7 linked regions of the Homo sapiens genome follow. The protein of the gene in region 1 purifies or fractionates together with the protein of each later gene. This does not show direct contact. Each region holds a gene or a part of one and is shown in the gene's direction. Other genes may lie near its edges. The genes, in order: CREB3L2, TBC1D1, SPIRE1, WWC2, FNIP1, RAB11FIP2 and BRAF.

Evidence for each region.
Region 2: the proteins of CREB3L2 (region 1) and TBC1D1 purify together in Homo sapiens (co-immunoprecipitation; one large-scale study listed by IntAct). This does not show direct contact.
Region 3: the proteins of CREB3L2 (region 1) and SPIRE1 purify together in Homo sapiens (co-immunoprecipitation; one large-scale study listed by IntAct). This does not show direct contact.
Region 4: the proteins of CREB3L2 (region 1) and WWC2 purify together in Homo sapiens (co-immunoprecipitation; one large-scale study listed by IntAct). This does not show direct contact.
Region 5: the proteins of CREB3L2 (region 1) and FNIP1 purify together in Homo sapiens (co-immunoprecipitation; one large-scale study listed by IntAct). This does not show direct contact.
Region 6: the proteins of CREB3L2 (region 1) and RAB11FIP2 purify together in Homo sapiens (co-immunoprecipitation; one large-scale study listed by IntAct). This does not show direct contact.
Region 7: the proteins of CREB3L2 (region 1) and BRAF purify together in Homo sapiens (co-immunoprecipitation; one large-scale study listed by IntAct). This does not show direct contact.

The regions. Positions count from the first base shown.
Region 1 is NC_000007.14:137,882,997-137,887,428, reverse strand, and holds part of CREB3L2 (cyclic AMP-responsive element-binding protein 3-like protein 2), read left to right. Parts: intron 1-1,926; coding exon 1,927-2,026; intron 2,027-2,307; coding exon 2,308-2,434; intron 2,435-4,432. UniProt on the Homo sapiens protein: Transcription factor involved in unfolded protein response (UPR).
Region 2 is NC_000004.12:38,134,913-38,139,344, forward strand, and holds the end of TBC1D1 (TBC1 domain family member 1), read left to right. Parts: intron 1-2,222; coding exon 2,223-2,423; 3' UTR 2,424-4,261; downstream 4,262-4,432. UniProt on the Homo sapiens protein: May act as a GTPase-activating protein for Rab family protein(s). May play a role in the cell cycle and differentiation of various tissues.
Region 3 is NC_000018.10:12,458,892-12,463,323, reverse strand, and holds part of SPIRE1 (protein spire homolog 1), read left to right. Parts: intron 1-3,395; coding exon of another isoform or gene 3,396-3,569; intron 3,570-4,432.
Region 4 is NC_000004.12:183,266,283-183,270,714, forward strand, and holds part of WWC2 (protein WWC2), read left to right. Parts: intron 1-2,688; coding exon 2,689-2,881; intron 2,882-3,712; coding exon of another isoform or gene 3,713-3,760; exon of another isoform or gene 3,761-3,765; intron 3,766-4,432. UniProt on the Homo sapiens protein: Regulator of the Hippo signaling pathway, also known as the Salvador-Warts-Hippo (SWH) pathway.
Region 5 is NC_000005.10:131,706,140-131,710,571, reverse strand, and holds part of FNIP1 (folliculin-interacting protein 1), read left to right. Parts: intron 1-1,299; coding exon 1,300-1,371; intron 1,372-4,025; coding exon 4,026-4,161; intron 4,162-4,432. UniProt on the Homo sapiens protein: Binding partner of the GTPase-activating protein FLCN: involved in the cellular response to amino acid availability by regulating the non-canonical mTORC1 signaling cascade controlling the MiT/TFE factors TFEB and TFE3.
Region 6 is NC_000010.11:118,039,773-118,044,204, reverse strand, and holds part of RAB11FIP2 (rab11 family-interacting protein 2), read left to right. Parts: intron 1-3,639; coding exon 3,640-4,082; intron 4,083-4,432. UniProt on the Homo sapiens protein: A Rab11 effector binding preferentially phosphatidylinositol 3,4,5-trisphosphate (PtdInsP3) and phosphatidic acid (PA) and acting in the regulation of the transport of vesicles from the endosomal recycling compartment (ERC) to the plasma membrane.
Region 7 is NC_000007.14:140,914,695-140,919,126, reverse strand, and holds part of BRAF (serine/threonine-protein kinase B-raf), read left to right. Parts: intron 1-4,432. UniProt on the Homo sapiens protein: Protein kinase involved in the transduction of mitogenic signals from the cell membrane to the nucleus. Phosphorylates MAP2K1, and thereby activates the MAP kinase signal transduction pathway. Phosphorylates PFKFB2.

The DNA.
Region 1 (4,432 bases):
CCCAGAAAGGAGTTTTGAGTCCAGAAAGCATCTACTCTGTGTGCTGAGGGCTGCTCCAATTCACCCACCACTCCTATCCATTTAAACTGCTGAAAGCAAAATCATTCTTGTGGCCAACCTGTCCTTAATTTGCTCAAATTGGGAGAACTTGTTTCATTGGTACTAGCTGGGGGTGAAGATGTAAGCCCAGGAAAAATCTGCTTGTCCTTCTAGCACCTGAATGCTATTCGGGGGTAGACTGTGGTGAGAAGCAAGTTATCTGCGAAAGCCCACAGCATTCTGTGAACAAATGATTTGATGATGTTTTCCAGTGAACTTATGTGGCTGTCTAACATTGTTACATCACAGCACACATTTTCCGAGAATCCTTGAGACCCAAGAGAAAGCATCTGCTCATAAAATCTTTCCACTTTGCCATATGCACTGGGTTTGGGGGTGGGGGATGAGGATGAGGAGGAGCTTCAACTCTTTACACCACTCACAGGGAACTCTTCCCGGGTGCTCTAACTCAGGAGGGTGTGTTGTCAGATCCTTTTCTATGCCTTGCAGTGTTCAGAATTTGCAAAGAATTTTACCATCTGCTCTGTGTGCTGATGTCACACAGAGCAGAGTATATAAGACTGTTCTTATCCCTCAAACTTTGCCTTTTAAGGAGAGGCACAGTTGTCCAATTTTAGGGATAAAACGTCTCCTTTTTTTTTTTCTGCTCTTGCTCTCTTGTCTTTTTCCTGGAGAAAGGCTAGAATCTGTTTCAAAGGATGGTTTTAAAGACCCTTGACTCTGGGCTTGAGGGTCCAGTTGAGCAGGCATCTTTGTTCTTTCATATGTTGGCTTCGTTTCCTGACTCTGGAGGTGCTGTGAGCGTTTAAGAACCACAGGCTTGAGCTGCAGGTGGCTGTTTGCCTCTCTGCCTTAAACAGAGCCGTTCTTGTTTTTCCTCTCCTTTCTCTCTCTCTCTTCTAACCTGCCTGTGAATGCCTGTTACTCTGTGTTGGCATTTCCAGTCACAGCCCCCACCTCTGGCCTTTCTCTCTCTCTTCTAACCTGCCTGTGAATGCCTGTTACTCTCTGTTGGCATTTCCAGTCACAGCCCCCACCTCTGGCCACTCCTTCTGTTGTTCTCTGCTGGTCATTTTTTATTTTTCCTTCTCTTTGCCTTTGTCCCTTTTTTATGTTTTTGTCAATGTTTCTCATCTCTTGCTTAAATGAGTTCTTCTTTTAATCGACATTTTCTTAGTCTGTTCAGGTTGCTATAACAAAATGTAATAAACGAGGTCACTTACAAACAACAGAAATTGATCTCTTACAGTTCTGGAGGCTGGGAAGTCCAAGATAAAAGTGTTGGGAGATTCCGTGTTGGGCGAGGGCCTGCTTTCTGGTTCACAAAAAGCAGCTTCTTGCTGTGTCCTCTCATAGTGGAAGGGAAGCACTCTAGTCTTTTCAGCTCCTTATAAGGGCACGAATCCCATCAATGAGGGCTCCATTTATGACTTAATCATCTCCCAAAGGTGCTGCATCCTAATACCGTCACATAGAGGACTGGGTTTTAGCATAGGAATTTAGGAGAGACACAACCATTCTGACTTTAGCCACCATCCAATCAGAGTGTTCCTTTTCCTTTGTTCTCAATCGCTGAGAAACAAGCCACAGCCTGTCAGGGGTAATGTGGAGGCAGTTACCTCTAACTCAGGGCAGTGCAAGAACAGGACTTTCAAGTGTGAAGGCTGATTCTGAGCCCCAGTGAGCTCTGTGACAATGGTGCTAGAAGGTACTGGTGTTCGTATCTTCTTCCAGAGGAAACTGTCCCTTGGGGCTCTGTTGAAATGCAGGCACAAAGGCACGGCGGCCTTCTTGGGTCACATGGAGAGATCAAAAAGCATCTCTTCTCTGTCAGACTCCCCTCACGGCTGTTGTTATCATTGGCAGGACTCTCCTTCAGCAACTCCAGAAGCTTCAGACTTTGGTGATGGGCAAGGTTTCTCGAACCTGCAAGTTAGCTGGCACGCAGACTGGCACCTGCCTCATGGTGAGCTTCCCAGCAGGGTAGCACAGTGACCGCCCCTGGCCTGGCCCCTGTCTCCCCTCTCCCTCCACTTGCCAAGGCCAAGTGCTGTGCTGTAGGAGAAACCACATGGAGGAACTCCACTCTGAGGCTGTTCCTCGGTGAGGCACTCTGGTGATGTGACTGGTGGGTGCAGTCCACTGGCCTGAAGAGGAGAGTCTGTGTCCCTGGGTATAAAGCTGTGCTGTCCAGAGGCTGAAGTCCACAGCCCCTCGTGTTCTCTCTCCCCTCTTTCTCTCCCACAGGTTGTGGTGCTGTGCTTTGCCGTTGCATTCGGCAGCTTCTTTCAAGGCTACGGGCCCTATCCTTCTGCCACCAAGATGGCTCTGCCCAGCCAGCATTCCCTGCAGGAGCCCTACACAGCCTCCGTGGGTAAGACAGCATGTGGCAAGTTGGGCAGGGTCTTGTTTTATTTCCCTAGAGCTGGGTTTCTCAGTCTTCCAAAAGGAATCTTCTGTGAAAGTCCAATGTTTAAAAAGTGGTAAAAGTGGAGCTTCTCCCTTTGAAGAGGCAAGTGGGGGTTCCCCTGGGGCCCCTCATCCACTGGACTGCGGCATCACTGGGAATTCTCCAGAGCTTGACAGAGCACAGTTTGCAAACTGCTGTTCTAGACTGTGTTCCCTGATCCATTCTGACATCTAATTTTTGAGTTCTGATAAGGGAGAGGGAAGCAGATGAGGGAAAGAGTCTGTCGCTTTCTGTGACGTTTTAAGAGAACTGCTGTGTTTCTGCCTCCACTGAGTGGAATTGTATGAGTAATGTAATGCAATGTATATAGTAAGGGCTTGTAAAGTGAAATTAAATAAACAGCAAGGTCAGGGCCGGGCGTGGTGGCTCACGCCTGTAACCCCAGCACTTTGGGAGGCCGAGGCGGGCAGATCACGAGGTCAGGAGATTGAGACTATCCTGGCTAACACTGTGAAACCCCATCGCCACTAAAAAATACAAAAAAATTAGCCGGGCGTGGTGGCAGGTACCTGTAGTCCCAGCTACTGGGGAGGCTGAGGCAGGAGAATATTGTGAACCTGGGAGGCGGAGTTTGCAGTGAGCCGAGATCGCACCACTGCACTCCAGCCTAGACGACAGAGCGAGACTCCATCAAAAAAAAAAAAAAAAAGAATCAGCAAGGTGAGGAGTTCAAGACCAGCCTGGCCAATATGCTGAAACCCCGTCTCTACTAAAAATACAAAAATTAGCTGGGCATGGTGGTGCATGCACCTATAGTCCCAGCTACTTGGGAGGCTGAGGCAGGAGAGTGGCGTGAACCTGGGAGGCGGAGGTTGCAGTGAGCCGAGATCGTGCCACTGCACCCCAGCCTGGGCGGCAGAGCAAGACTCCATCTCAAACAAACAAACAAAAAGAATCAGCCTGCCTTCCAAAACCTTATGCCCAAGATCTAGAGAATATGGGGACTCCGGTGTCAGATAAGAAGCGTATGGTGTTCTCACCTAGAAATAAAGGGATGGTGAGTAAGGAATACACACACAAATTCACACCTACACCTATAGGAATGAGCATGGGGTTAGGCAGTACAGTAGTCCCCCCTTATCTGAGGTTTTGTATTCTAAGCTTTCAGTTACCTGTAGCCAATGAACATACCTGCAGTTACCTTAAAATAGCTGAATACACTATAGTAAGAAACACTACCTGCAGCCAATAAAAATACCTGCAGTTATCTGAAAATAGCTGAGTACACCACCATAAGAAATTTTGAGAGAGAGAGGCCACATTCATGTAACTTTTATTAGAAGATATGGTTAGAATTGTTCTATTTTATTATTATTGTTAATTTCTTACTGGGCCTAATTTCTAAATCAAACTTTATCATAAGTACATATGTATAGGAAAAGGCATATGAACCCTACATGCTATATGCCCATATATAAACCCTGTATGGTTTTTCCCATACATATATACCTTATACCATATATATAGGGTTCAGTTCTATCTTCGGTTTCAGCCGTCCACTGGGGGTCTTGAAATGTATTCCCCATGGATAAGGGAGGACTACTGTACTGGATTTGGGATAGGGAAAATTTTGCCATCTTGAAACGTCTGTGGTCTTCACCAGGCAGGTGTGTCTCTGCCAGGTATGACAGAAGTGCTAGCATTCCAATTAAATAATTTCAGTGGCCTGTTGAGAATTTTTCCCCCCAAGGAACTATCTCTCTAAATTTAATTGGAAGCATAGTTTCTATGTCATGGAAAATTGCTACAGAGCCATCTAGCTGTGTGACTGTCCTACAAAACAAAGGAGATTGTCTCTATCCTTTGATTTATGGCTTTGGCTTTGTGTCTCCTCTTCCCTTTCTAAATGAGATGCCCTGTACCTCATCCCCCTGCCAGACCTACTCACTGGGAATGCTGCTT
Region 2 (4,432 bases), on another chromosome or scaffold:
CCCACCAGTAGTTCCTGAGTCCCTGCAGTGCTGAGTGCTGGGGGCCACCAAGTTGAGTAAGACACTGCAGCTCTCAAAGAGTTGGATCTAGGATTGTATTGTATCGATTTGTGGTGTTTGGATATAGTTTTTCCATGATCCCCTACGAAAATATGCCTCTCATATGTAAGAATCATGCCTCCTCCGTGTACACTTTTCAGACACTGACAAGGAAGGGTGTTCAATACAGTACTGAATTTTCATATAGCTTTTCTGGGGGGGCCAAAATACCAAAATCAACCCATTTCCTACCTTTATTCTGTCCATAAAATTGTTAGAAATATCAAAATCCCATTTCATTCCCTGTTAAATACATGTGAACGTTGTCTAGACGCTGGAGAGCAAATTCTACCACCTCTTTTGTTCAGCAGTACATCAGACGATTGCATAGACGTGCCAGATGGAACCAAATAATAATGCACATGGATTTGTCATAATCCGTACAAGTCATTGACGCCCACACTGAGCCAGGTGCTGTGGGAGACAGGACCATGTGTGAAAGAGAAGACATGCTTGCTTCTATAAAAGCATCGGTGTTATTGAGGAGACCTGACATTAATGCAGAATAGCAAATGACCATGCAAATTAATTCACTACTAACTAAGCTGCAGGTTGCACCTCGGAATGCAGAGGGGCTTCAAAGTGATGAGGGTAGGCCCTGAGCCAGGCCCTGACGATGGGTGGATTTTGAGGATCAGAGAGTACAGCTTAGAGAGATACCCCAAGTGGGACCACCCCTTGCCCAGTAGGCTGACAAACTAAGGCTCTTGGTCCCTTTTTCATATTTTGGGTGTTCTAGTGGCCCAGCCAGAGCTAGACTTCGAGTCATGAATTTTCTGGCACAAGTGTTGTCACATTCAAAAAAGTATTTTCTTTGTTTGAAAAATGAAAAATATATATATATGTGTGTGTGTATATATATGTGTGTGTGTGTGTATATATGTGTGTGTGTATATATACGTGTGTGTGTATATGTGTGTGTGTGTGTGTGTGTGTGTGTGTATATATGTGTATATATATACCATTTTTCCCACCTAAAATGGAGCATGGCAAATCTGGACTGGATTAGTGAGATAGACCAAGTCACAGAGCACTCCAGGATGCAGCTGTGAGCTGGGGAACAGGTCAGAAAGGCCTCAGGGACATCAGCATACATGTTGGAGTTTCTGCAGTTTTCTTAGGGAACCCTTTAATGTCACTAGAGCTAACACACTTGTCACCTGGGAAGCAAGCCTGCCAGAGCAAATTAGAGAGACGAGGGACAGTTGCTAGAAAGATACACCTGGAAGTTCTATTTAACTAGCATTAATTATGTGCTAGGTGCTGAGGATGTAGACTGAGTGAGATCCTCATTCCTCCTCTGTAGGGTGGAAGAGAGGATATTGCTTGTCTCCATGGCTCGTAGTGAACAGTCAGTGAGACCAGGCACATAAACCTCTTAGCAGAACACTTGGCCTTTCTAAGGACTCCATATGTGTTCCGGGGTAAATGCCTGTGTTTCTTGACGTAGTGATGTCTTGTTCCTCTAGACATCACTAACTTTACACAGTAGCTTTAGATGGCGTGGACGTGAATAAATGCAACTTAGGTTTTCTTGTTGGTTTCTTTTTGAGTATCATTGTGTTTGTAAAGAATTTCAGATTAGAGGATTGTTACCACGTGGGCCTTCAGGAGGAAACTGTTTTGAGTTTTTGTCAGCCCGAAATCGATTTGTGCGTTTAAGTATATGTGCTCATCAAAACAGGCCAGGCTCTGCTGCAGTAACAAACTTACAAGTCTCCGAGGCTTGGCACAACGGAAGTCTTTGTGTCACTGACGCCCACTTCAGCTTTGTGTTGCTGAAGCATTCTTTGGCCCTATCCAAGCTGTCCCTCTGGTGGTGGTGCCTGGGGGTTTGGGTTCCCTCTGTGTTGTGATCCACCATCTCAGCATCGGCTTCCACAGCAGCCATAGCAGGAGAAGAAAATGCTGGGGGCTCTCAGGGTGCTTTTAAGGGCCTGGCCACCGACCTGCAAGGGGTGCGAGTTGCCTTCCTGTGTGGCCAGAACTGATGATAAACTGTAGACTCATCCCTGCTGAAACTCGGCTCCAGAGTGCTCCCAAGGCTGGACAGCGTGTGGGCACTGGATCCCACCTGTGTTAGCACTGGCAATTGTATTCTCATTTCTTCTTTTATTCTCCAGGTGGCAAATGGTAGGATCCAAAGCCTTGAGGCCACCATTGAGAAGCTCCTGAGCAGTGAGAGCAAGCTGAAGCAGGCCATGCTTACCTTAGAACTGGAGCGGTCGGCCCTGCTGCAGACGGTGGAGGAGCTGCGGCGGCGGAGCGCAGAGCCCAGCGACCGGGAGCCTGAGTGCACGCAGCCCGAGCCCACGGGCGACTGACAGCTCTGCAGGAGAGATTGCAACACCATCCCACACTGTCCAGGCCTTAACTGAGAGGGACAGAAGACGCTGGAAGGAGAGAAGGAAGCGGGAAGTGTGCTTCTCAGGGAGGAAACCGGCTTGCCAGCAAGTAGATTCTTACGAACTCCAACTTGCAATTCAGGGGGCATGTCCCAGTGTTTTTTTTGTTGTTTTTAGATACTAAATCGTCCCTTCTCCAGTCCTGATTACTGTACACAGTAGCTTTAGATGGCGTGGACGTGAATAAATGCAACTTATGTTTTCTTGTTGGTTCCTTTTTGAGTGTCACTGTGTTTGTAAAGAGCATTCACAATACGGTGGAATTTCAAAAGCTGGAAGAGCTCGAGATCATGCCTCAGGCAAAGGCGTGGGTCCATCGTTCTTCCGAGAGGGTTTGTGTGGCGACTACACCCTCAGCGTCCCTGGCAAGGTGCAGTTGGCTCTCGCCCATTCTTGTTATGGAAACCTAAGATGATCATTGGGAAGATCAGTGATCTTGGGTCATTGATCCCTGGCTCAGAGGATAGCGGTTTCCATCATAAACCAAGATGATGAGTTCAGCCTTTATCCCTCGTGGTTCCACTAGATGTAACTTAAAGGAGTTAACATTTGAGGACTTTGTTCTACATCAGATTTTACTATTTGAATGTTTAAGATCACTTTATTGAATTTGAAGATCATCAAATTAAATAAAATGATTTATTTAATTTGGATATCCTGATCACTGTCAAGTGAAATGGATCTCTCTCTTTGGTATTTAAGGAAGTTTGTCTTTAAAAAAAAAATAGAGTGTTTTCATACATTTTTGCTTATCCCATAAGTACAGTTGATCAAAGTCATAGTAGGTAAATGCTTTATGGGACAGCTGACACCTTTTAGACCCTACCAGGTATTGCTAGCATGTGAGCTGCAGTTGTGGGGTCTGAGATATTTCTTTGTGGTAGTTTCATACCCATACTATAGAGTCATGTATTTATTTTTGCCTGTTGTGTGATGTAATGCAATCATGTTCCTTTGAGTCTCCATCCCTTGGAAATCTGACTTCTTGCAGAAGGAGTAGGCACATCAAGATATTCAGGGGTGCCCCAAGAGTCTGGGACTTTCAAAAAAAAAAGATCAGGCTGAAACTGCAGTCAGATTTATGACAGCTGACAGTTTTTCAGAGGTCGCACACAGTGACTCTCCTCTCTCAGGATGACGAGGACCTGTGCCTTCAACAAGCAAAATGCTGCTCACGGTTGTCCTGCTTGCAGCCAGTCACTGTGTAAAGCCTCTCTGATGTGCACTTAAGAGTGGGTTGCTTTCTCACAAAGATGGGGTTCTGTGCAGTCACAGGTCACTTCCTTGACAACACAATCATTTCTGATCTTTATCACTGTAACCACGTCTTCTATTCCATAGGAGTTTCTTTTGATTCTCTCAGTTGCGGGGGGCATCTCTTAATCCTGGGGTAAAAGGAGAGATTGCCATACTTAGACTCACTGTGAGTCTCCCCGGCCATTTCACGAGGAGACCACAGTGCTGCCACCAGTGCCTAAACAGGTGGCTGGCATTCGAGACTTCCTCCTGTTCCCTGGGTCAGAGGATAGCGGTTTCCATCATAAACCAAGATGATGAGTTCAGCCTTTATCCCTCGTGGTTCCGCTAGATGTAACTTATAGGAGTTAACATTTGAGGACTTTGTTCTGCATCAGATCTTACTATTTGAATGTTTACTGTTGGATTTTGGGCATCTTATTACTGTTACTCAAAAACATTGACTCTGCATCAAGAAAGAAACAAGAAAGCAATAAAACAAGAAATAATTCATGCTCACATTTTTATGGTGGTTTTTTTTTTTTTTTTAACTTTGGATTTTTGCTTTTCAGCCCAGGAGTAAAGGAATGCCTTATGAACACCTGTGGCCTACGTGTGGTCATGACCCAACCATCAGTGAGATTATTTGAGATATTGGTGTCTGCATCCAGTGTTGTTATCTGAGTGTTTAT
Region 3 (4,432 bases), on another chromosome or scaffold:
CTTAGGGACCAGCTAGAAGACATAGAATCATTAGCTTTCTTATGAAGATGATAAGGAGAAAAAAACTTGCAAAAGTTAGAATGAATTTTGAATAACTTACTTAATAGCTAAAGAAAACAAACAGCCAGGCGTGGTGGCTCGTGCCTATAATCCTAACACTTTGGGAGGCCAAGGTGGGAGGATTACTTGACTCCAGGAGTTCAAGACCAGCCTGAGCAACATTGTGAGATCCCGTCTCTGCAAAAAAAAATAATAATAATTAGCCAGGTGTGGTAGTGCACACCTGTGGCCCCAGCTGCTTAAGAGGATGAGGTGTGAGAGGATCATTTGTGCCCAGGAGGTTAAGGCTGCAGTGAGCTATGACTACACCATTGCACTCTAGCCTGGGCAGCAGAGTGACACCTTCTCCAAACTCTATCCATAACCTAAACGAAACTTGACCAGTGTTTGTTCATTTTGAGCTCTTTTTTTTTTTCAAGAAAATTTATCAGTGGTTGAAAGTATGGATTATTATTAAAGAAATGCTTTCTTTCTTTCAAAGGCTATTAATCCATTTAAAAATTGTTAAAAATTGACCAAAAAAACTCTTAGCAAAATGACTACAGTAGGTGATCTTATTGAGGCAGAAGTACAAGCGAGGGAGAATTTTGATCCATTAATAACTACTGTACATTGTTTTCTAGTATGTTTTGTGATATTTGGGGCCAGTGGTGTTATTTTGGTTGAACTGGTTTATAGTTTTTGCTGTTTTCCAGAGACTTGCAGGTTCTTATAGTGGGTGCTCATTTCTCAGGACAGTGGGCAGCACACAAGGGTTTGCCAGGAGGAATTAGTAGATCTCCCAGCCAACAGAGGTCTCCAAAGACTCTTTTGTAGCGCCACTTGGCTTCTGAAATATTTGTAGGCAAGATGCACAGCTGTAATTAATATTCTACCCACAGTCAAATATCTAATGTGTTTTCAAATATTCATGAATAAAAAATAATAGAATATATTGAATACTAAGTCCATTTTTTAAGGCTGTGATGAATTATTAGAGTTTCAATTAAAGTAATAACAGATGGGAGATAATGCGATTATTGTGAAGACAGGGATTTTGAACAGAGCTTAGAATGTTAATATTTGGTCATTCATCTCTATGCCAAAACAGTGCAATTAAAGAACTAATGATTTTATGGCGATTCCTGATAGGATTCTTCTAGCTCCAGAATAATCACCAAAACACAGCTATTCGATTAAATATAGCCTTGTCAGTGACTTACCAACAAGAAAACAGAACTCTGACCAGACAGATTCAAACGTAAAAATCTAAAAATTTGTTTTCATGTGAATAAGTTATTGCTTTTACCAAAATATACAGCTATTATCACAACTTTAAAATATGTAAGAGGGTCCAGGCACAGTGGCTCACACCTGTAATCCCAGCACTTTGGGAGGCCAAAGGAGGAGAATCGCCTGAGGCCAGAAGTTTGAGACCAGCCTGGGCAACTTAAGAAACCCCTGTCTGTACAAAATTTTTAATTAAAAACTTAGTTAGATGTGGTGGCGCATGCCCGTAATCCCAGCTACTCAGGATGCTGCAGAGGGAAGATCCCTTGAGCCTAGGAGTTTGATGCCACAGTGAACTAAGAATGTGCCACTCCACCCCAGCGTAGATGACACAGCAAGACCCTGTCTCTAAAAATATATATACACACATATGTGTATGTGTGTGTATATGTGTGTGTATGTATGTATATACATATGTATGTACATACATATACACGCATGTATGTATATACATATGTACGTACATACCACACATATGTATGTACGTACATATGTACGTGCATACACACATATGTATGTACGTACATATGTACATACATACACACATGTATGTATATACATACATACACACACACACACATACATGTGTATAGGTAAGAGGGAACTTGTGGTTTTTTTCATAAGTCTAATCATTAGGGTATTCTCTTCTTCACTCAGCTTTTCCTAGAAGCCAGTCTATCATTCAGCTTGTAACTGGCCTTTATGTGATCATACAATGTCATTATTGAGGTTAGACTTAAAGTTTAAAATTAGCAATGTAAAGGAACTATCAGCTTAGCTACAAGGTAGTTTCAGCTTATAATAGAAGTTATGCTGAGACCTTCAGCTGACCCCAAGGGCCCATGACTGTGTCTGTTTCCTGTTAAAGCAGAGCTCTTAGTGTTGCGAGGTCAGGCCGTGCACTGTTTTTTTGTGGAGCAGGAAGGAGAGCAAGATAAACTAACTTGCAATCACTGAGGAAGGTCTCAGTGAGCAGGCAGTGGGAGAGCCGCTCTGCTCAGCACTGAACAGTGGTCAGATTGAGGGCAGGGAGCAGAGTCCACGCAGGCCTCCAAGCACCAGCAGAGACGAAATGATCTTCCTTGCTAATAGCTTATCTTGGGAAATCCATAAAATCATACCTTGTAGTAATGCCCTATAGCTTGGTAAGTATTGTTTTTATAAGTGTAATTAATTTTTAAATGTAGCTGCATTTTAGAAAACAAAGAATCATTTTGTATTTGTAACTCCTCAACTGAAAATGGCAGGAATGTTTTTATTGTTGATAATTTTTTTTTTTTTTGAGATGGAGTTCCGCTCTTGTTGCGCAGGCTGGAGTGCAATGGCTCAATCTCGATTCACCACAACCTCCGCCTCCCGGATTGAAGCGATTCTCCTGCCTCAGCCTCCCAAGTAGTTGGGATTATAGGCATGTGCCACCACACCCGGCTAATTTTGTATACTTAGGAGAGACGGGGTTTCTCCATGTTGGTCAGGCTGGTCTCGAACTCCTGACCTCAGGTGATCTGCCCGCCTCGGCCTCCCAAAGTGCTGAGATTACAGGCGTGAGCCACTGTGCCCGGCTGATAATTTTTATTTTTGTTGTATCTCCCTCCCTTTTCTTGTGATGTTTAAAATGTCATTTTTTTTCATCATTTGGTCAAATAACCGAGGGCAAATGCCCATCCAGTCTAAAGGCACCTCGTGTTGGCAGTACCTTCCTGGGGCAGGTGCAAGTGGCTGCCTGGCACATGTCCCCATGCTTTCTCAGGCACAGTAACGAGTTGCCTCTATCCTTCATCACAACAAGCCCCACTGAGGAAACTCAGAGTGTTTGCAGGACCCTAAATTAGAAAAATCCTTGCTGTGTGAACGCTGAGATTCTCCAGGAAGGACTTCGTGGTTTCATCACTGATTTATACGTGTGGATGCAGATGTTCGCACGGACTGTACCAGCCTCATGGTGTTTTTTGTTTTGTTTTCCTTTTGTGATCTGTAATCACTATGTGTAGGTCACTTGTGTTCAGCATTATTTTCTCCTTTTCTTTTCCCCCTGCCATTTTCTTTTTCCCTTATCTGTTGTTCAGGTTCCTAGGATAACCAGTGTATGGCCAAGGACGCCTTTTCGACCACTTTTTTCTACCATACAAACAGCTTCTCTGCTCAGCTCTCATCCTTTTGAAGCAGCCATGTTTGGGGTAGCAGGGGCTATGTATTATCTGTGTGAGAGAGCTTTTACCAGCAGGTGGAAATCCTCAAAGGTTGGCCTCTTTCTGCTGGGTCTGGGATTATTTCATTCTCTGTATCTCTGACGGTGACACCTCAACTGTTGCGTTCTCTGAGAATTAACCGCTTAGATAGCACTTTGCTTCCAATCATTGATTCCACCCTTGTGCAGGATGCACCGATCATGCCGTGGTCTCAGTTGAGGGAAATAACTGGGAAAGGACAACAAACTCAAAATGCAGCATCTGATGAAGGGGACCTGTGGGTGTTTGTCTCCTCGGGTGACCTAATTGTATAGCAGAGTCAGTGCTGCCACCTTTCTCCATGTGCAGCAGGCACTCTGAGCCCGTGGGGTGCATTCCTCCTAGGGCCTCCCCCCACCATCAGAAGAGTATTTGCTCACTCATTCCGTGAGCAGAGCATCCTCCTGCCAGGCCAGGTAGCCATGGTGGACTCCGCCCACCCACAGACACCTGCACAACCAGGGCATGGGCTCAGGAAACCTGTGTGCTCCCATCACCTGTCATGAAGCTGTGTTATGACAACCAGGGTGTGTACGTCACTTCTCTGCAAAGAGAAATTTCAAGTTTCCTTTTTAATGATGTGGCTATTTTAAATAATTCTGCATTATATTACTGTTTTTTGAGGTTTTTTTACACAGAATAATATATCATTATTTGAACCTTCACAATTCTACGTGAAATAAAAAGCTCTACGACCATATTGAAGCCTCTTCTGCCACCACGTAGCAGGTGCTCAGAGCAGCCTTTGTGCTACAGTAGGCAGGGCCTGGCTCTCTAAAGCCTTGGATTTACTAACCTTGTCCTTGACAGATGACCCCGCAGCTGGTTTCTTTGTTACTCTTTCTTAGTCATCTTGATATGGAAAGGAGACTCAA
Region 4 (4,432 bases), on another chromosome or scaffold:
TTAAGGAATTTTCTAATCTTTTACATTAAAATGTAGTGATTAAATTTTATGTATCTGTACAACATTGCCAGTCAAACATTTTATCATGCTACATGTAAGAGTATGTTTTTATCATCAAGCATTTACTTCCCTGTGACCAGTGAGTTCTTAAAGTTATTTCACTTCATCAAACCAAGAATCCCAACAAAGTGATGACATAATGCTACACAGTCCATTGCTTAGAGACTTTTTGCTTCCTGACAGATAAGCCTAAAGATCTCATGACAAATAAGTCTGGAAGTCTTAGACACCACCATTCACATTTTCTGACATCAGAGTTTCAGTGACTCTGAAGGGCTCATGGCTGGAAAGTACCAGGAAGAATCCAGACTTCGACTTAGCACTATGACGTAGAATCCGGAATATGCATGTCCACTCTGCATTGAAACTTCCTGTAAGAAGTGGATCTTAATAATATTTTGAATATGCAGTGCAAGGCTTTGGAAATTTAAAAAGAGCTGTTGAGGGGTGATCCCCAAGACTCTATACCCAGCCAGGTGAATGTTTTCCTTAATGATAGAGTATATTCCTTAGTGATAAGACTTTTAATAGAATAAATTAAAGAGTTCTGCATGTTTTTCCTACAGAGTTGCTTGTAAGTTCACCTCCTAACATTCCAATAATCATCAGAAAGAAGAAACTGGATCTAAGAGAAAAAGAACTAGATAGAAATTATGTAGTTGACAATAGAAGAATAGAGATAGTGGCTTTCTTTTTTTTTTTTTAAGAGATGGGGTCTCACTGGGTTGCCCAGGCTGGTCTTGAACTCCCTGGGCTCTCCCACCTTGGTCTCCCAAAGTGCTGGGATTACAGGCGTGAGCCACCGAGCCCAGCCAAGATAGTAGATTTTAATGTGTTGACAAGCATCAAAGCTGGAGGTAGGATAGGATTCCAGGAGGAGGGTGAGCTTAGAGAACTTCCTGAATCAAAGTGTGGACTGTCCACATCATTAGTGAGACCAGTGAGGAGAGCAGGCATCACATAGAAGTGCCTAGATCAACGCAGAGAGCCTGCTTCCCAAATGCGAGATGAAAAACACCAGTCAGCGGTGTCCAGGAAGACTGGCTTGATATAAACTGTGACTTCTCCCTACCAGTAGATAAGCTGTGATGTTGGAGCATGCCATTGGTGGCCTTTTAGTAAAGCAAATCATGGAGAAGACAAGTCTACCAGAGACTGAAACAATAAACAGTGAGAACTAATGCACAACTTCAGGAGAAAACTACAGAACACCCCAAGAACACACACCTTCTTTAAACTCACTGTAAGGGTGCACCTGCAATATGCTCTACTTCAACTAAACCAATCACAGTCATTCTCACTTACCTCATAGGATGTCACCAAGTCCCTTCTGGAGGCATGGTGATACCTGCGTAGTGTAGGACCAGTGAAATACTCAGCCCAACCAATGAGCAGACATTTGCTCTTCGGCTCCCCAGCTAATGTGCAGGCACTTGTTGAGTTGGTGCGAACCTTCCTGACATATATAGCAATCTTTCCTTAAACCCACATGTAAAAGCCTTGGCCTAAATAATGACACTGCTAAACATGACAGCTAGTATGAAATATTCTTAAAATTGTTCTTTTTTTTCCCAACCTCAAAAGTTATTTTTTGATTATTAATTGTGACAAGCAGAAAAGATTTTCTTCTGCTGAATCTTCGGCCTCCCAGGGACAGTGAGCTGTGTCTTAGTAAGGCTCTTTAATCAACAGCAGTGGGCTTCAGGCCCACTAGGTTTTCATTGCTGAATCTCCATAATTAATATTGATATGAAATACAAAATAATATGACATTCCTCAGTTCTGCATTTGAATTACAGTTTTTCTAACGGAGAAAGGCATGTTTTAGAATCTAGATTAGACAAGCCTGGAAATGGGGGTGGAGGGGATAGACTTAGCGGTATTCTCTTCCTGGGATTTAAAGGAAGTTACCTCACGCTCTTTCTAAGAATTGTGGGTCCTCATACAATGTGTGCTCAGAAGAGTCACTTTAAGGTAGTATTAGAAGTTATTGTTTTTCTATAACTCTTCCTCTGAATTTTACAAAGCACGGGACTCTTAAAACAGTTTGTCGTATCTCAGAATTTGGAGATGCTAGACAGTGATATTTTTGAACCGTTGTTTCATCTGTTTTAAATTTTCTTAACAATATGCTACTGAGCCTTTCTTTTTCTCTAGTAGGATAATGTATTCCATTCCTGGGAGGTGATCATCAGCATCTCTTGTTTAATACTCAGGATGAGGATTCTGTGAGATAAAGTCACCAGTATCTACTTAGTGTGTTCCCACCTTCCCAGGCTCAGAAATAACTTATTTTGGAATTGGCTGTCCATGGGGCAGGTGGGACGTTAAATTCGTCTGCCCTACGGATTTTCTTCCTCTTCACTTTCCTATCATGTGCCTTTGCTGCAGTCTCGTGGTGAGTGGAGGCTGGGCCATTGCATGCTCAGGGGCGTAGTCAGCTCGGGTGGGTTAAGGACAGAGCATCTATGCAGCTGAGCACGGACCCGTGATGGCAGCAACACTTTAGATTGATCTTGAACTCCACGATCCCTCATTTTCTCTCTTTGCAGATAATTTCAAATGATAGCTGTGAATCTGGTATAATTAAAGTACCTATGAAATCCATTTTATTCTTGTTCTTTGCAGATATTTTAGGGTTGCCGTTCTTCCTTCCTCAACTGATGTCAGCTGTCTGTTTCGCACAAAAGTTCATCCGCCCACAGAATCCATTTTATTCAATGATGTGTTCAGAGTCGCCATTTCCCAAACAGCCTTACAACAGAAGACACTGAGGGTAGACCTTTGCTCTGTCAGTAAACACCGAAGGGAAGAATGCCTGGTAGGATTCTTCATAATTCCCATTACCAAATAGCACTTAGATTGGGTGGTCTGAGGATATACTTTGTAGTTGCTATTTTGCCAGCCCTAGAAATCACTACAGACCTGCCCAACATCTTGGGATACATCTAGTGTTTGTTCATTTTTTTCTGAAGTAGTGGTTTCTGTTTATTCTCTTATTCCAGACCTTTAAAATCTGCTTATAAATTGTGATTTTCTGTAAAAGTTGCTTTCTATTTCTACCTTTTCACCACAGAAGAACTTTACCTTTGTGACAGCTATCACTCATGGAGTGTGCTTACCACTCCCAGTACCAATGCCAAGCTTTGCGTGACTGCTGTGTATATATTATCTCATTTAATCCTCATGACAACCTGATGAAAGATTGGTTATGAAATGGATGATTATCCACTATTTTCAGATAAGGAGCTGCTTAGAGAGGTAATATATTCAACGGTCATACAACTAGTAAGCGATGAAGCCAGATATCAAAAAGATATCCCCACATAATTACATAATTCACTGTTACAAATTAAAATTAAGCAAGACCACTGAGTACTATATAGTACCCTTATTCACCTCATTCTCCTCCACCACAGTATTGGAGCTTTCGGGAAGATGTGATGTTACTGTTTAAAGCAATATGACATTTAAATGCTACAGCAGAAGACTTCACAGTTAACTAATTGTGAGTTTAATACACTGTTGTGCGTAATAACCAGAAAACCATTATGTCCCAGTAAAGTTACATAAGTATTCAAATGCAGGCATCTAGAGATGTGCCATGTGTTCAGAAAACAATGTGAGTCTCCAATTGAGCTTTTCTCTGCAGTCCAGTGGGAAGCACAGAAACACATGTTTCATGATGAACAAAGTTTAAGAGGGGTAGGTTTCTTCTTAATTTTTCTTCTTGTTTTCTTTACTTGAAAAAAATATCTGATGATATTGTCTGACAATAAAGTTAGAAAGAAGCAGAGCTAACAGACTCGTTAGGCTATCAGAAAGGCTTTAGTATCATAGATGTCATATTTAGTATAATAGATGTCAGAGGCTCCCACAAAGTTCATAAATATTATATTGATAGCCTTAAAGAAGAGTGTAATTGAATTTAGATTTTGTCTATGTGTGATTTGGTGGAATATGGAAAGCCTTTATCCTTTACTTTTTTTGCCATTCTACTAACTTATGTATCTAAAGAAAACTGTTGCTTTTTGATGTCTTATTCAAGAACCAAAGTGGAGTTTTTATTTTTTTTTCAGTGGATAATGGGTTGTTTGTGAGTAAGTCACCTTTACAGCATATTATAAGAAGTACTATGAGGCCGGGTGTGGTGGGTCATGCCTGTAATCCTAGCACTTTGGGAGGCCGAGGCAGGCAGATCACCTGAGGTCAGGAGTTCGAGACCAGCCTGGCCAACATGGTGAAACCCTGTCTCTACTAAAAATACAAAAATTAGCTGGGTGTTGTGGTGCGCACCTGTAATCCCAGCTATTCAGGAGGCTGAGGTAGGAGAATCGCTTGAACCCAGGAGGTGGAGGTTGCAGTGAGCTGA
Region 5 (4,432 bases), on another chromosome or scaffold:
GATGTGCTGTGTGGGTAGACTAGTTGGTGTGCCCCAACGGCTAGAATCTGTAGTTAAGCTGTGGAAACAAGAGAGTAGATGAATGCAGTTGGTGAGGTTGTGGTTAAGAAAACATTGCATTAGGAAGTATAAAAACTTAATTCCTTTTCTACTGAACATGTTCTTAAAGTTTCCAGACACCGGATTATCAGTAGAATTGACATTTTTATGAAATTTCAGTTTGTCATTTCTCTTGTGGCATAATGATTTTAACTTCAGAATCTGAAACCAAAACTTAATATGAACTTTATTTCTTATGATACCACTTGGAATTTTTAATGTGACACTGTCTTGTTTCCATGGCTGAGTAGCTTTTGTACCATAGTTCACCAATTGCAGAAAATTATCCTATCTTGTTATTATTGTAAAATTTCTGATCTACACTATTCCATAAGAGCAGTTTTTCTTGGAGCTAAGATTTAGATGAACAAGCACTACTATAATGCTCTGTAAAAGGCATATATGACTATATTTGCTTACATAATCAAGTTGATGATTGTAGAGTATGTTCATGTGTATATATCCAGGATTCTAATCATATTCCTTGTTTTCACACATTTTAGCGGATTACCTAACATTGTAACCTTTTAGTGGAAATTACTGGAATGTGAACACATTTACTCTTCATTGTTCTCAGATTGGTATCAATTTAGCCCTTCTTGTTTTGATTAATATTTTCTTTCCCTGTAAATATTAGATATAAAAAATATATATTTGTAGAAAACTTGGAAAACACTTTTAAAAGGCAAAAATATATATTAGCCATTTTATCAGCCAGAAATACCTGCTTTTTTGTTTTTTAAAGAAAATGGGGATCATACTATTCAAATAAATATCTCAATTTATTATAGAGAATTTTGAAACATACATTGTTATAGGCAGAAACAGTACAGTGAACTATGATATACCCACCACTTGGTCCCAGCAAGCACTCATACTGTTCAGTAGCTTGCTTTTTTTCATTTAATAGTATATTATAAATATGTCACTGAATATGCTTCCAAAATATGACTTTTAGTCACTCCTTGCTTCTTTAGATATTATGTTTTAGATTCTTATACTGTGTATCAAATCTTCACAGAGCTCTCAAAGCTTGTTCAACTGAGTAATAGCTCTTGGTGTTGGGTTGGTGCCATGCTATTGAAAAAAATAAGGGAATGCAATGAGATGAGCATGATTTCGTTTGCTATTTAAAAGGAGCTGTTCATCCACCTGAATAGCAATATATTTTATAACTGACAGTTTCATCTTTATTTATAGTTCACAGCAACCCAATGGACATGCCTGGAAGAGAGCTCAATGAGGACAGAGACAGTGGCATAGCACGGTCTGGTAATGTCACGTTCTTGTATTCAGTTTTTTATGAGATTACTGTTGGCATTGATTTTCTTTTTTATCCCTCCCTTTATTATCAAATTTGTTCATATTGATATTAGCCTTACAAGAGAACTGTGAAAAGACCAGAGCAAAGTCTTATAAATTTAATATTTTTCATGTTTACTTTTAAGTGTGCTAAGTAGGATAAAGCCAGGATGAAGTAAAGCCAGAGTAAAGTACACTGGTTGAAGCTTAGTGAATATAAGAAGAAAAGCATTGGTCAGAAAAACTGCTTAGAAACTGTAGTAAAAAAAAAACACGTTTGCTTATATTTGCTTGCTGCTAACTAAAGTTTAAATTGTCATATTGTCTCTTGCCCAGAAAAGCATAGGCATTTTGAATCAATGTTATACTTTTTTTTTTTTTCCAAATATGGACCTGTCCAAAATTTGTAGGTCTAGCAAACATTTATTGAAACATGGTGGACATTAAAAAAATTAAAGCCCAGAGTCTGCCCTTACGGAACACAGATGTATGGAGTCTACTGGGAGAAAAATTAGGAAAATCATCTGTCATAGGTCATTGTGTGATGCATTTAGTGATAGGCCTGCGCAAAAAGCTTCAGCGAAAGAGCACCACACTTAGCCTGGGCAAGGGGCAGGGATGCCAACAATGCTTTACAGAAGGATGATGATTGAGTTGTATTTTGAGAAATAAATAGCAGTTATCCAGGCAAAAGCTCAGAAAAGCATTTTAGCTAAAAGGAAAAGTGTTTGTTGGGGCCCAGAGAGCAGCATAAGTAAAAGGAGGAGTAATTTTAGGCTTGAATTACTGTTAGATATGAGAAACTTAATTCAGTGTGATAGCATGTGTTGTTACATTATATGGCTCTGCTATCGAAATTGTTTTGTAATTCAGTTTTGAGTATAAATGAAAAATCTAAACTTGCTGTATATTGCAATCCCTAGGTATGTATTAGAATAACAAAGAGAAGTTTTATAAAAAATTCAAGTGCCTGAACTCTACTTTCAAAGACTCTCGTGTAACCTAGAGAAGGTATCTCTAGGCATCTGTATTTGTGAAACAAAACAAAATGCAAAACCTAACACTTGATTCTAATGGATAGCTAGGGTTGCCGACCACTACTCTAATAAGAGTAGCTTGTGTTTTTCAAGTAATCTCATCTTTCTTTTCTAATTGAGTTTCTTATTTTTGTTTTAAAGAATCTAGAGTTTATTTCTTTTAATAAACTTTGCTTCGATGTAATCTAGATATTTAGTCTTCCCTGGCAGGAATTTAATTCTCATTATTTTATTTAAGATTTAAGTATAATTTATTTATACTTACATTCTTTGTAAGTTGAAGCATCTGGCTAGACTGATCTGTTAGGCTGCTTCAAGTTATTGGATTCATATATGCCATTTAAGTTAATGTGTGTTTTCTTTTTTTTCTAATAGGGTTATTTTTAATATTAGAATGCAGTGAAATGTATTTTTTCCAAACTTAGGACAGCATTTTATTTTTCACTGAAGTCATACCCAGATTTAGTTGTACATACCCAATCTTGGACTACAAGAGTTTATAATACTAATTGATAAAATGTGGTCTGCATTTAGAATCTGCATTCTAAAGTAATTTAGAATGAGTTCATTGATGGTCTACATGTTTGCATGGCACATACAGCTTTATCCTCTATCATTGAATTTGTCAGAATTCAAATGAATAGATCTTCATAATGAAAGTGTCTCAGTTTTTAGTGCTGGTGTCCAAAATAATTTATCATCTGGCCTGTACCTTTTTAATAGTGATGATAATGGTTCCCTGTTTTGAATATACATTTTCAGTATGTGCTTATGATCATGAAAGATAGAAGTCTGGAATATTGCCAAACAAAAGCAAGCCCTTAATGGCAAGTGTTATCCTCTCTAAATCCAGTGGGGAAAAGCCTGATGAAAATCTCCTAGCCTAATGAAAAATCAGCAGTTGTAGCTCTTAACACCTCAAGCAATAAACATATCTTACAGATTTCACAGAAGTGTTTCGGGAAGGGAATAATCCATCCCCAAGATCAGGGGATTGCAGCCGTGAAAGAGTGGAGTCTGCTGGAATGTGTTTGTCACCTTAGATGCTCCAGGGAGCATTCTTTTTTTGGAGCTTAGTAGGTATAGTCATGATTCTTAATTAAAAGTGGTAGGTTTGACTACATGTGCACATGTGATCCATGAATACTTGTAAATGACCTCTTTAAATGCCATTCAGACACTTATTTTCAATAGCTTGTTCTTAAAATCCAGCTGCTGCATTAAGTTTGAATAGCATCAGATTTCCTTTAATTTAAGAACTAAAAGGATTCAACTGAGTTAGGGGACAGTCAATCCAGTGGCCAAAGGGATAATGCCTTGTTGCAAAGTATAATTTTCTTCTGGAGTCCCTAGAGGGGAATGCCAAAAGGGGATTGTCTCAGAGTTTTTTGCTGATACATTGTTAATATATGATTTTTCTCCTCTGAGACCTTGCTACAAGAAGGATGTGTTCTTTTAATGAACATTTTTGAGGCTCATGAAGCAAAATAAAGTTTAACTTAACCTATTTGTAATTTTGTTAAAAAGAAATTTGTCATTATGCTTAGTCATTATTGACTTATACTTGTTGTTCTTCTGACTTAACAGCATCTCTCAGCAGCTTGCTGATCACTCCATTTCCTTCCCCAAACTCCTCACTTACCCGAAGTTGTGCCAGCAGCTACCAGCGACGTTGGCGACGCAGCCAAACAACAAGTTTGGAAAATGGGGTATTTCCTAGATGGTAAGTTGGAACTTTAAACACAGAACAAGATTGAGTAGTTCCTTAAACACAATTTTATATGGGTTTTTTAGAACCTGGACTTGTATTCTGTGTATTTTAAGTTTGAAACTGAAAACTTTTAAAATTTACTACATTTTTAAAATTGTGGTAAGTTATACATAACAAGTTACAATTTTAACCATTTTTAGGTGTACAGTTCAGTGACATTTGTTTAAATACCTTCATATTGTTGTGCAACCATCATCACCATCCAACTCCAGAACTTTTTCCT
Region 6 (4,432 bases), on another chromosome or scaffold:
TGAGGATGAAATAACCTTTTACAATTTCTTCTTGTTTTACTCCTAGTCCTGGGCAACATCACAGTTACAATACATTTGGTGTGAGCAATACTCTAATATTATGGTCTCTCCTTATAGAAATTCTCTACTGGCTATTATATAAAATTGATTAGAACTTTAGGGGTAAAATGCTTTTAAATGTTATCAACAGGGTTTGTGATGTTATTGCATTCAAAGTGATTTTCATATATTGCTAAACCCTTAACATTTTATTTGTGGATAAATGGGGACCATGTATTTGATGAGATATCTTTATTGGTAATATTTCTAGTTTTTTAATATATTTAATAGCTTCCTTTTCTAGCACAGCTGTACCTGTGGCCCAGTAAGAGACAGACTTGAGCCGCCGGTATATTTCAAGGAAGATATTTAATATTCTGCACATTGCTAAACTTTTTCAGCATATTCCCAAGTGCTTTTTAGAAAACTGTTTCGAGTGATGAGGACTACCAGCTAACTTAGATGTCCTATGAAACTGCTGGGTGTGACACTTTTTACATTTTGACACTGAAGACATATATTTACAGCTTGTCTTCCAGTTGTGTCATGATAGATAAAGAAGTATGACAACTAAAATTATTACTTTACTTATTTTCTTACCTTGAAAATATATGTCTTTTTTCTCTCTTAAGGAATGGGGAAAAAGGGTCTGAGCCAGAACCCTTTGAGTGGGCCTGGGAAGAGAACTTCTGTATCTCCTCCTTTAGAGGATGTCTGGGTTGGTTCTGGCATGAGATTTAAAGAAATAATACAATGTTTAGTAATAGAATGTTAAAATCATTGATGCTGTTGTGTAATATCCATTGATTTTTTACAATAGAAGTAGGTGATGTTGACTTTTTTTTTTAATGCTCATGAAAAGTAATAACAACCAGAGTCTGTAGAGTTAGATGTGACTCAGACATATGCAGATTTTAGGACGTGTGTGTGTCTCAGCGGTGCACCTGTGTCCTGGCCTCTGGCACCCTTACTGCCAATTTTGTCCCATTTCTGACCACACAGCACCAATTGCTTGGGAATAGTTCCCATATGTGTGCTGGTTTTTGAACATGGACCTGTGCCCACTAAAAATTGAACAGAGGCCATGTACAGTTTAAATCCAGTACTCCAGAGGTGAAAAAAAGTCAGCTAATCCAGTAAGCTCCAAATGCTGTGTCTTCGTTTTATCTTTCTGAAGACTGGAAAAACAAATGCTATCTCTGAAATGATTCTTGAAGATCTCATTAAGACTTCCCTATTATGTCATTTTCAAAACAAAGCAACTAAAGTTATTTGTCATTGCTACATTTTCAATGAGTATATTTGTAAAAGTTCTTTGCAGTTTTTTTTGGGGGGTGGGGAATGGACATTATAGTGTATTTACAGTTTGTAGTCAAATACTGATTTGCTTTATTCAGGTTTACATAGGTCTTTACAGTTTCCTACTAAAAAAACAAGACAATGTAAACACATACACACACACACACAGTTGTAGCTTACTTGTAAGAATATAGTTCTAGAAATAAAAATTGAATAAACATTTAATGCAAGGCAGACTGCCTTCCAGGAGCTTATACTCTAGCAGTAGAAAATTTGCATTGTCTTTCTCTTCAGCTCTCATGTCTCCTTATTAAATACAGTGTCCTGCAGTATGTGCCAGCCATGTGGTTAACCTTATTAACATATGTGGTTCATCAAATAAGAAAGAGCTTCTATTTTCCTGCAGATGTTATTCATCAACTTTAGATTTTTTTCTTTATTGACTTTAATCTGACATTGGGAAGTTACATATCATTCCTTGTGCCTCAATTTCCTCATCTATGAAATAAAGATGTTAAAGTAGATGATTTATTGGTCTTATCTCTAAAAGTCTGTGAATTTCCACTACCCCCACCCCCTTCCATTTTGGGGGTAATTAATTTTTTTTTACTCATATTTGCTTTGATTTGTTACATACGTGCTCGTTTTTGTTTGCAAATTTTTGGTACATTTTTTGCAAAGTATATTCACCTACATTCTATAAAGCCTGAGGTACTACAGAGTATTTCTGAGCTACTGTTCGTCAGATGTGTTTCTCTCCCTATTGAAAATAGCTCTGTTTTCCAAAACTTTGAGTTAACTGGGTATATAATCTGCTTCATTTCCAGGCTTTTTGAGTGCTCAATTGTATGTTATTTAAGGTTGTCTATTTCACAGAAATCGCTGTCATTTCTTATTTCTAGCCCCTGTTTCTTCAGATTTTACCATTTGCCTTATATAAGGGATTTTCTCAGTTTAAGGTCTCAGGCTAATAGTATTTTAAAATATTGATATTCTAAGAAATGGCTAGTTTTGATGCAACTATATCTGAATTGATTGAATAGCTCCAATTTAGTTAATCAAGAAAATATTTTTCTTCCATGTTACGTGCAAAGATGTAGCTGGTATTTATATCATGTGCCAGTATTTCAACTTGATATACAGTAAATGTAATCTTCTCTTGGCATATCCAGTTGGTAACAATGAGAGAAAGAACTAATGTAAAATTAGATCAGAGTTCCTTTGTAGCTAAGAAAATTTGTTACACTCGATTAGAGCTATATTTAAATAATAACCTGTGTGCAGGAATGGATATTATGCCTCATTGCTAAGTTATGTGAAAACATTGTAGAAACTCTTTCAGGCTTGATTTTGTAGTTTTTTTTGGCTGTTTTCCCATAGAATGACCACTTGTGACATGGCCAACTGGAGAATTTCTCATGGATAAAAATACTATAAAACCAAAATATTGCTTCTTGTATATCATTTAAATACAGATAGTGCCATACATTGAAGGGACTAAAACGTAAGATTTGGCTTCATTTTCAAAATAATTTTTATTTGGTATTGTCACAGTAGCAATAGTAAAATGAAGCAAATAGATTCAAACAAGAAGCATTTTAGGTTTTTTTTTTTCCTTTTGAAAACTTCACAAGATTTATTTTTTGTCACTTCTTGCATTTTACTTATTTTTTGCATATTTTATTCAGGAGTAGGCTTTGATTCATTTTATGTCAATCTAAATGACATCATATGCTGTTTTAATGATTAGCAAGCTATATGCAATGATCTCCAATGTTAACAAAATTCTTTTGCTACTTTTACGTAAGTAATATTTTGGGATGGGGCCAGGTATTTATTATTGTATTAAAATGTCATGAGATTCATTTTATAATGCTCAAAAATAATTTGTATTGGTGAATTCTTTCAAAATCTCTGCCTCAATGTCTTTTAATGTTAAAAAAAAATGTCCTTAGGCCGTGAGCAACACTTAATCCCATATGGAAAACTTCTAGCATTGATAAGAATTTTTGATGATGAGTGATTTTCAAATTACAAAAGAAAAGATTATCTGAAAACATTTTCAAACTTGCCAAAGACCTATTCATTCCTTCAGTATATGTTACATCACAGAGACAATGATCAGTTTTTTAAACTAAATAATAAGTAAAGCCCGAAATACTGTGGCTGACAGATTCTTATTCAGAGCTTAGGTTGCCTTGATGTATAGTTACTTTACCTAAAAGGCTATTTGTATGTAACAGAACTCAGTATCCTCTCTCTATTATGTGTTACAGCCAATTTTTTTTTCTTCTCTTTAAGGTGGTTTAGATTAGAATCCAAACAAGGAAAACGAATCAAAAACAGGGGTGAGATAAAGGTCAATATTCAGTTTATGAGGAACAATATGACCGCAAGTATGTTTGACTTATCAATGAAGGACAAAACCAGATCTCCTTTTGCAAAGTTAAAAGATAAGATGAAGGGTAGAAAAAATGATGGAACATTTTCTGATACGTCTTCTGCAATCATTCCAAGTACTCACATGCCCGATGCCAATAGTGAATTTTCAAGTGGTGAAATACAGATGAAATCCAAACCAAAAAAGCCTTTTCTCTTGGGTCCTCAGCGACTCTCGTCAGCGCATTCAATGTCTGATTTATCTGGGTCCCATATGTCTTCTGAGAAACTGAAGGCTGGCACCATAGGTCAAACACATCTTCTCGGACACCAGTTAGATTCCTTTGGAACAGTTCCAGAAAGTGGTAAGTGTCACATTCTTGTGTACTCATTGGTCTGAACTACCCTTTTAGTTTTTAAAGTTTAATTTCTAAATTTAGTAAATCAAAATAGCAGTTGCTTTGTAGTATTTTCCAAATTTTGTCATTCATCAAATATTGAGTACCTACTATACCTCAAATTGGTAAGTTCCTTGAAGGCAGAGCTTGTCTGCATTTGTATTTATATTATTAGATGATAATAAAATGAGTGCCAGTTTCCTTTTATGGCTTGGCTGCCTGTTTTACTGCTGTTTCTGCTATCTCAAAACCCTGAGCATAAATGAATGTTCCATTTCATCATAAAGTCCTTAGAAGAAAACTTTTATGTTCAGAAG
Region 7 (4,432 bases), 3.0 Mb from region 1:
CTCGCAGACTGGAGTGCAGTGGCGCGATCTCAGCTCACTGCAAGCTCTGCCTCCCGGGTTCACGCCTTTCTGCCTTTCTCCTGCCTCAGCCTCCCCAGTAGCTGGGACTACAGGCGCCTGCCACCACGCCCAGCTAATTTTTTGTATTTTTAGTAGAGACGGGGTTTCACCGTGTTGGCCAGGATGGTCTCAATCTCCTGACCTCGTGATCTGCCCGCCTCAGCCTCCCAAAGTGCTGGGATTACAGGCGTGAGCCACCACACCTGGCCAGAATAAAAATTCCAAATTGCACTAATGCATATGTGAAACTGTTTTTGTCTGTTTTGTAGTTTTAAAATCTTCATCTATAATAGTACCTGGCACATAGGTACTAAAATATTTGGTGAAAGAATTAGTGAATAAAACCTTACTGGATATGAGGTGATCTGATTTTCTGTAACATTCTATTCTTTTTTTCTGCCGGTCACAAAATCACCTTATGAAATTGACAGCCAAATTGGCTGCAACAGGCAGTTTGAAAAACACTGTTTTGGGGTTTCAAGGACCTTCTTCAGAGGTTACCCCAGGGCTCTGTTTAGTGCCTCTATACCAGGGGCCCCCAACCCCTGGGCCACAGCCTCGTATCTACCAGTCCGTGACCTGTTAGGAACCTGACTACACCGCAGGAGGTGAGTGGCAGGCAAGTGAGCATTACCGCCAAAGCTCCACCTCCTGTCAGATCAGCGGCAGGAGCGTGAACCCTATCAGAAACTGTGCATGTGAGGGATCTAGATTGTGTGCTTCTTGTGAGAATCTAATGCCTGATGATCTGAGGTGGAACAATTTCATCCTGAAACCCCCTCTACCCCTGTCCATGGAAAAATTGTCTTCCATGAAATTGGTCACTGGTCCCAAAAAGGTTGGGGAGTGCTGCCCTATACCATAACTATTGAAGTTCTTCATTTATCTGCTTTACATGTTAGTTTCCTTGAAAAAAGGGTTTTATGGCTGTAAAAATTTTAGAGCTACTATGTATGGAAGAGAGGTTTGTGCTGGCATAAATCTTCTCAGGTATCATCTGTGTAGAAAATTTCAACAACTTGTGTCTTAAGGCAGAGGTCAGCAATCTTAAGGGTCAGATGGCAAATATTTTAGGCATTGTGGGACATACAGTTCCTCTCACAATTCCTCAACAATACTGTAGTAGCTCAGAAGTAGCTAATAGACAATATTTAAACAAATGAGTTTGACTCTGTTCCAGTAGTCATTTTCAGGACACTGAAATTTGAATTTCATATCATTTTCATGTGTCATGAAAATCTTCTTTTGATTTTTTTTCTACCACTTAAACATGTAAAAAGTATTCTTAGCTTGTGAGCTATACAAAAGCAGATAGTGGGCCAGTTCATGGGCTGAACTGTTCTGACTCCTGGTCTAAGGGAGACTATATATGTTATATTTGAGGTTCTCAAAGTAAGATGTAGGTTAGAGGTCTATAGAAAGTTCATAATTGCTTTTGTAAAAACTAGATTGATTTATTTGAGAGGGAGAGAGAGGTGGAGTTTCACTGTATTGCCCAGGCTGGACTTGAACTCTGGGCTCAAGCAATCTTCCAGCCTCAGCCTCCCAAGTAGCTAGGACTACAGGCATGCACCAAGCCCAGCTCCTAGTTCCTCTTTGCACTCAGTTTCATCTTCTACCCTCAGCCCCTGGCAAACACTGGTCTGATCTCTGTGCCCTTTCCAGAAAGTCATATAAATGGAGTCATATAAAAGTCATATCAGTGGGGCCGGGCATGGTGGCTCACACCTGTAATTTCAGCACTTTGGGAGGCTGAGGAGGGCAGATCACCTGAGGTCAGGAGTTTGAGACTGGCCTGGCCAACATGGTGAAACCCCCTCTCTACTAAAAATACAAAAATTAGCCGAGCATGGTGGTGGGCACCTGCAATCCCAGCTACCTGGGAGGCTGAGGCAGGAGAAACACTTGAACCCGGGAGAGGGAGGTTGTAGTGAGCCGAGATCGCGTCATTGCACTCCAGCAATTGTGAAGCAGTGGTTAAGGTTCATTCATTATTTTACATATGGATGTCCAGTTGTTTCACATTTATCAAATTTCTTTTGAATCACCTTGGCACTTTTATTGAAATCAATTGCTTATGTTTGTGAGTTTTGGATTCTACTGTTTTATTGATCTGTGTGTGTTTTCTTAGGCTAATACCCCACTACCTTAGTTATGATAGCTTTATAGTTAAATTTAAAATCAGGTAGGTCCAGTTGAGAAGATTTTTAGAACTTTGACTTTTTAATTTCTTGTTACCATACTTTTGGAAGGAGAAGACTCATAATTTTATTCAGGTTTTCAAAGGTGTCTTCTACCCCCAAATACTTAAGACTTCAGTATATAGTTAATATATCTCTGTCTTGAATTATGTGGTGGTGAGGTTCATGAAAAGTGACAGGTAAAAGTTGCAACCAAAATTAATTTCCTTATAAGAAAGGACATATTTTAGTAGGTTGCACAGAAAAGTCAATCACGTCCTTTTTACCGTGTTGCATTATGAGGTGTAATCAAAATGTGTATAGGGGAAAATGAATATGTTAAGATGTTTATTCACCAAAAAAAGTCACCGAAAGTGTCAATTAGGTTGTGAAAGATACTAGTTTACAATGTGTTATTCTCCATCTTCATTAGAAGAGTTCTTCCATTTGAAACCTATGTCATGTTCTGTGATATTTCAGAGTTAGTATCTTTATGAATCTTAGGGGCATCATTAAATCATTATGTTTCTTCTAAGGAAAGGCATATGGTAGTAGTTGGTCATATTTCTACCTTTTTCAGTGGGGCCTATAGGGCCCCTTTACTTTGTTTTAAACTGCACTGATAGCTTTTTACTGGTTAGCCCAGGGAATTATCCCTACAGTGTAAAATGATGTTTCTCATCATGATTTTCATTTAATAATTTAAAAACAAAATAACAGGAAACACATGTTTCTAGAGAGGAAGTGTGGAATACCTGACTAGTAGAGGGTCAGGTGACAATTGCGAAGGTAGAAACTGACTAAGTTTTGACCATGTTGCAAGGAGTATCGTTCCAGTTTTGTTGGGTCACCTTGCAGAGTTTTTAAAAAAAATCCTTGGGTTTTTTTTGTTTGTTTGTTTGTTTGTTTTGGTAGAGATGCTGTGTTGCTCAGGCTAGTCTCGAAATCCTGGGCTCAAGCAGTCCTTCCCAGAGTGCTGGGATTACAGGCATGAGCCACCGCACCCAGCATCACCTTGCCGATTTTGAAACTACACTTCCAGGGAGAGAGTAATACAATATCTTGGCAGACTATTTTTAACTATTGTTCCAAAATTAATCTGTTTTTAAAAAGTAAAGAAGTGTGGATATCTTTAAAAGATACTTTAATTAGGCTGGTCACGGTGGCTCATGCCTGTAATCCCAGCACTTTGGGAGGCCAGGATGGGTGGATCACCTGAGGTCAGGAGTTCGAGACCAACCTGACCAACATGGAGACACTCCGTCTCTACTAAAAATGCAAAAAATTAGCCGGGCATGGTGGCGCATGTCTGTAATCCCAGCTACTTGGGAGGCTGAGGCAGGAGAATTGCTTGAACCTGGGAGGCGGAGGTTGCAGTGAGCCGATATTGCGCCATTGCACTCCAGCCTGGGCAACAAGAGTGAGGGAAACTCCGTGTCAAAAAAAAAAAAAAAGATACTTTAATTATATTTAAGTTGGGGAATACTTTTGTTTTATATTTTTTCTTGCACTAAATATGTAACCTTTAAGTTAATAACACCAGAAAATTTTTACTTTATAGTTTTAGAACTGCTTAATTGAAATAAAATGTTAGGATACTTTGAATTAGTCACTTATTTTGGCATATTTTAAACAGTTTAATGTACTGCTTGGGGTTGTTTCTCAATTGACTTGATATTTTTAAACTGTATTTTTTACCTTGTACCATTTATTTTGCAAAATAAATTTCTATTTTGGCTTATAGATGTATTTTTAATATTAAAGGGGATTATTGGTGTCAGCCATAAAATTGTAATTAAGTCTTAAGTAGGTATGGTTTTTTTTTTTTTTTTTTTTTGGAGACGGAGTCTCGCTCTATCATCCATGCTGGAGTGCAGTGGTGTGATCTCGGCTCATTGCAACCTCCGCCCCCCCCCCCCCCCGGGTTCAAGTGATTCTCCTGCCTCAGCCTCCAGAGTAGCTGGCACTACAGGCGCATGCCACCATGCCCGGCTAATTTTTTTGTATTTTTGGTAGAGATGGGATTTCACCATGTTAGCTAGGATGGTCTCGATCTCCTGACCTCATGATCCGTCCGCCTCAGCCTCCCAAAGTGCTGGGATTACAGGCATGAGCCACCGTGCCTGGCTGATTATTTTTATAGAGCTCTTGTTAGCGTAATTTCTGGTAATGTTTTATGGAGGTGACTTAAT